Regions from separate parts of the Homo sapiens genome. Here region 2 is linked to region 1. The links come from fine-mapping of genetic effects on plasma protein levels. A gene starts in region 1. The other region holds a variant in brackets. All regions are shown on one strand. Distances are from middle to middle. Region 1 holds the start of CLEC4G (C-type lectin domain family 4 member G). Region 2 overlaps CLEC4M (C-type lectin domain family 4 member M).

What was found. A credible set is the group of variants that fine-mapping cannot tell apart. PIP is the posterior inclusion probability: the model's chance that the variant is causal. Protein levels are from antibody-based Olink assays in UK Biobank. Linkage for the fine-mapping came from a reference panel and not from the study's own genotypes, which makes the PIPs less certain.
Region 2: its variant is the best candidate, but not a certain one, in a credible set for the plasma level of the CLEC4G protein (UK Biobank, PIP 0.62).

The regions. Positions count from the first base shown.
Region 1 is chr19:7,731,044-7,733,617 of GRCh38, reverse strand. It overlaps CLEC4G (C-type lectin domain family 4 member G), which reads left to right and starts at 1,508. Exons shown (of 9, transcript NM_198492.4): 1 at 1,508-1,570; 2 at 1,847-1,957; 3 at 2,299-2,352; 4 at 2,530-2,574. The coding sequence starts at 1,516. RefSeq lists a cis regulatory region at 1,434-1,443 and promoters at 1,250-1,513, 1,201-1,513, 907-1,513.
Region 2 is chr19:7,765,164-7,768,181 of GRCh38, reverse strand. It overlaps CLEC4M (C-type lectin domain family 4 member M), which reads right to left. Exons shown (of 7, transcript NM_014257.5): 3 at 2,914-2,997; 4 at 1,975-2,544; 5 at 1,375-1,526; 6 at 554-666. Among named protein-coding and RNA genes, the nearest start is that of CLEC4M, 3.4 kb to the right of the region's middle. The variant G/C (reference allele first, on the strand shown) is at 1,639.

The DNA of each region.
Region 1 (2,574 bases):
AACATTCTATTAAGTGCTCAACATTTCACCTTGTCAGTGAGGCTGGCCCTGGCCACCCTAGCCACTGCCCACTGCCTAGTGCCCATCCCAGTCCTGCCAAGTACTTATCCTACTGGATTTTTTCTTCCCTTAATGTTTTTTCATAGCATTTATGACTTTTGAATAGAGTATACTACGGTTCCCACCTTTTGCACTATGGACATTAGGAGTCAGATCATTCTTTGCTATGGGGGATGTCTTAGGCATTGTAGGGCTTTGCGCAGCATCCCTGGCCTCTACCCACTAGATGCCTGGAGCACACACACACACACACACACACACACACACACATTCTGTGACAACCAAAAGTGTCTCCAGACATAGCCAAATGTCCCCTGGTGGGCGTAATTGCCCCCAGCTGGGAACTACTATGCTATACAACTTATGTTTTCAATTATGTTTATTACGTTGAGTATGGAGTCTGTCTCCCCACACTTCTAGAATATTAGCTCCAAGAAGAGAGGAATTTGCTTATTTTACTCTCTGATGTGGCCCCAGTTCCAAGATCAATGCCTGGCATATGGCAGGTGCTCAATGTTTGTTGAAAGAATGCATGAACACTGAGTGTTTTTGATATGCCTGAAATGGTGCTAGGTAGACATGTATAACCTCATTGTCTTTATTTTTTTATTTTTTCAATTTTTGTTTTCATATATATATATATATATATATTTTTTTTTTTTTTTCAGAAATGAGGGTCTTGTTATATTGCCCAGGCTGGTCTGGTCTGGAACTCCTGGGCTCAGTGATCCTTCCATGTCGGCCTCCCAAAGTGCTGGGATTACAGGTGTGAGCCAGCAAGACTGTCTTGTTTCTTTATCATAGCATCTTTGTGAGAGAGGCCCATCGCTATCTCCTTTACAGTGGGGAAAACTAAGGCTTCTAGAAGCTACCTAGAACCCATACAGTGGTAGAGTCCTGCAGCTCCGCCGGCTACCTCCCTAACAAAACTGTTTGTTCCCTTCTGGTACAGAGGGACTGGATCAAGGTCAGGTTCAAACCCAGCCTCTGCAGGCACCTGCAGGGGAGTTGAGAAGGGACCTGAACTGGCCTGGGGGGCTATGCCTGAGGGGGCTTTCTCAGGAGCCAGCAGGGGTTACAATTTGGTCGGGTTCAGTGTGTCCCTCGCGGGATAAAACCCAGCCCCAGGCCCATAAGAGATGGTGACTAAGCTCCAAAGAGAAGCCTCCAGCCCCAGGCCCATAAGAGATGGTGACTAAGCTCCAAAGAGAAGCCTCCAGCACCAGCCTGGGGATGGAGCTGCAGTGGCCAGAACCAGGAGGCTGGAACCGCCCGGCCTCACTCCAGCCCAGCCCAGCCCAGCCTTGAAAGGGCCCAATCCTGTGATTGGTCCATGGGTTCCCGTTGCCAGGAATTAAGGCCAAGAAAATGGGAAGGAAGGAAGGGAGTGCGTAGGTCCAGTGAGAACAGGCGTGAAATTTATATCTCTGCCCAGGACTGGGTGCCTGCATCGCCATGGACACCACCAGGTACAGCAAGTGGGGCGGCAGCTCCGAGGAGGTCCCCGGAGGTATGAGCAAGGAGACTGCCCCATCCCTGCCCCAGTGTCTGGGGTTTGATGGGGGAGGGGAGGGAAGAGTCGAGACAGGCCAGGGTTGTGGGTGCAGGAGAGACACCACAGGCCATAGAGCCAGTTGGACCAGGGTCCAATTCCAACTCTGCCGCTTAGAAGCTGTGTGACCATAGGCAAGTTACTTAACTTCTCTGAATCTCAGTTTCCTGGGAGTAACTCAGGCCTCCAGGGCTCAGTTCTGGGGGACCCAGCATGCCGTCCTTGTTATGCCAGGGCCCTGGGGACGCTGGGTGCACTGGAGCAGGAGACCCCTCTTCTTGGCCCTGGCTGTCCTGGTCACCACAGTCCTTTGGGCTGTGATTCTGAGTATCCTATTGTCCAAGGGTGAGTGACTCTCAATGGGGAGGTGTTGCATCCGGCCCCCCTGGGGACAGAAAACCCCCACTGCATGGCGCACCAGCTGCATCCTGGGGTCCTGTTCGCGTCTGAGTGTGAGCAGAGTGTGTGTACATCTTTGGGCCGTGTGCACTCACGCGTGTGCACATGGCGTGCTCGTATGTGCGCGAGTCCCCGCGCGTTTGTCTCCCATCGGCGTGTGTGCACATCGTGTGAGCTGTATGCCTGCCCGCCCGCTCCGTGCTCCCGAGTTGGGGGACGCTGCACCCCCCGGGCGAGGGGAGGATTCCCGAGTTCCCGGCCTCGCCTGCAGGAGCCTCTCTCCTCAGCCTCCACGGAGCGCGCGGCGCTGCTTGACGGCCACGACCTGCTGAGGACAAACGGTGTGTGCAGAGCCGGGCGCCTGGGCCCCCGGGGCGTGAGGGGCGGGAGTTTCTGAGACCCCGGAGATGGAGTCTCGAGTGCGTGGGGGCCCTATGGTCCCTGAGGCTGGAAGGGGGTCCCCTGAGTCCTCCCAAGTGACCCGAGGGGCATGCATTTTGGGGCGGGGGTCGTTCCAGCCTCGAAGCAGACGGCGGCGCTGGGTGCCCTGAAGGAGGAGGTCG
Region 2 (3,018 bases), 34 kb before region 1:
AGGCCAGGTGTCAGGCCGCTAGGCAGCCTCTATGCCCCAGAGCCCACAAAATGCTTCATATCTGCCCATCTGAAGCCTGCTTGCCTGGCCTTGCCCTTTTCTCCCCATGCAAACCATAATAAAAGCTCTGGCCCACAGTCCCCTCCATGACTTTCCCTCACGACAGACCCTGCTGCTTCCCCAGCGGCCCCCTGCTGTGAAATGTGCGCCCTCTAGGAACCTGTGGGTAGGATAAGCTACTCACTTTGTGTAAATGGCAATTGTCTCCTGAGCTGGTGGCCTTACTAGACTTCAGACTTCCTATTAATACACTGTATTTTAACACACCTACCCACAGGGCAAGCTCCTCCTGCAGCTCTGCTGGTGGAATTCTTGGCACCTTTCATCCTGTCTGGAGGTGGGTATGAAGACCACCTTCCTCAACTCAGTAAAACCCCAGACTCTTAGTCCTATGGGGTCAGGGAGGTTGGGGGGGACCCCCAGGGAAAGCTCAAGTCAGAGTTGCAGGAACCCAGCCCGACTGGATACAGTGTCCCTTTCTCCCAGAATCTACCTGGGTGACAGAGGTGAGCCGTCCACCCATTGCCACGTGCCTTCCTGATTTAGGTCTGAAAGTCCCATCCAGGAGAAGCGGTTACTCCTGGAAGTCTGCAGCTGTAGGAAGTTCTGGAGGGTAGAGGAGGAGTCAGGAGGGAGCTCTGCTTCCCATTTTCCAGGTTCCACCTCCCCGTCTCTTGGCAGAAAGTTCTGCTTTCAAGTTAACCTGCAGTTTTCTGATATAGCAGGTCCTGAGCCTCCTCATGTCTGAGCCCCTCTCACATCTGTATCCCCATGGCATGTGTGTCCTGACATGCAGGCACGCATGCACAGCTGGCCTCTCCTCATGTGCTCCTGTGAATGCTGCATGTTTATCTATTTTGCATGTCCACATGAATTTACTCCTGACTGGGTTTCATGTACTGGAGCCACATTGGACCCACTACTAATTGCTGGTCCAGCACATCTCCTTTCAGCTCTGCACTGAGTGACAGCACATCACAGCTTGAAATCAGCCGCAGTGGAAATATTTACACTGGGGAAATTGGCAAACACAACACATCAGGAATTTTCTCTCCGGAGAGCTGGCCGTTAAACACCTGCAGCATGCTGTGGTGGTTTGCTTACATTTGACGTTTCCCCCAAATATTCACATGTGTTCAGATCTGGTTTGTATTTGCTTGAAGGGTACCTGGGACCCCTTCATTCATATCCTTCTCTTCCCATCTTTCCAAATAGAGCAAAGCCCCTCTTCTGCAAAATCCTCTCTGAGCACCTCCTCCCCAGTTGGCCAGAAGCCATGCCCCAGGCCAGGACGAGGACCCCCACCACGTGTACCTGCTCCTCAGCAGTTTTGATTACGACGAGCTGGGCCCTCACTTCCTGGCAGGCGGTGACGGAGTCGTGCCAGTTCCGCTGGGAGTTAGACATGAAGTAACAGTTTCCTTGGAAGAATGTCCAGTCCTTGGGACAGTGGCGGCACAGGCGTTCTGTTGGGGGAGGCTGGTCAGGGCTGGGCTCAGATTAGGTTGTCCATATTCCCATATCTGCCCAGCCTTCAAGCCCTTGAAAATCAGGGCCCTTCCTTGACTGTCCATGTTG[G/C]GTGGACCGCTTGGAATGGGGAGAGACCATTCCTCTCCCTACTTCCCAAGACTCTCCCTGATCCCCAGGAGAACCCAGGAGTCCTGGCTCCATCTCTTCCAGACTGGGAGAATTAGCAGCTTTAGAGCTCAGAACAGAAGGCAGCGGATTGGTTGAACTGAGTGTCTACTGTGTGCCTGGCCCACTGTGAACACCAAGTGCAATGATCGCAGTTACCCCGTGTTCTCATTTCACAGGGGAGGAAACTGAGGCTCAGGCAGGGTTGGTAACTCAAGTAAAGTCACATCACACAGAGACCATCTCAGGCCCAAGGACCCTTGATGTGCAGGAACTCACCAAATGCAGTCTTCAAATCGGTCAGTTCTTGATAGATTTGCTGCTGCTTGGACTGGTCTGGCAACTCACCCACTGCAGCCTTCAGCTGGGTCAGCTCCTGGTAGATCTCCTGCAGCTTGGATTTCTCTGGCAACTCACCCACTGCAGCCTTCAGCTCCGTCAGCTCCTGGTAGATCTCCTGCAGCTTGGATTTCTCTGGCAACTCACCCACTGCAGCCTTCAGCCGGGTCAGCTCCTGGTAGATCTCCTGCAGCTTGGATTTCTCTGGCAACTCACCCACTGCAGCCTTCAGCCGGGTCAGCTCCTGGTAGATCTCCTGCAGCTTGGATTTCTCTGGCAACTCACCCACTGCAGCCTTCAGCCGGGTCAGCTCCTGGTAGATCTCCTGCAGCTTGGATTTCTCTGGCAACTCACCCACTGCAGCCTTCAGCTGGGTCAGCTCCTGGTAGATCTCCTGCAGCTTGGATTTCTCTGAGAGCTCACCCACTGCAGCTTTAAGCTGGGTCAGGTTCTGGTAGATTGCGTCTTGCTCGGATTGTTCCTGACTTAGGGAGCTGGGGACCTTGGACACTGGGCCAAGAAGAAAAGGAACTGCAATTATTAAACACCTACTGTGTGCCAAGCCCTGAACTGAGCCCCATAGAGACATCATTTGTGAGAGCCAAGGTCTCAGTTAATCCCCTTTGAAGATGAGGAAAACTGACACCTGGAGAAGGCAGCACAGAAGGCCAAGGAGAGCCAGGTTCTTCCCCTCCTCCTCCTCCCTCTCCTGTCCTGCTCTAGAGTGGGGAGGGGCTGTGGGAGAGGCCCCTACAGACCCCCAGGGACAACATCTTGGCTCTCAGTCCCACCTCCCTCCCAGACCTGGCCACTCCAGGCTCTGTTCATAGCCAAAAGGCCAGGCCTGGGGACCCCAGACCCTCAGAACCTGCCCCTGACCTTGGACAAGGATGGCCACCAGGACCCCAGCCAAGAGCATGAAGGAGAGGAGTTGCAGCACCAGGGCGCCATGGCCAAGACACCCTGAGAGAGGATACATGCGTC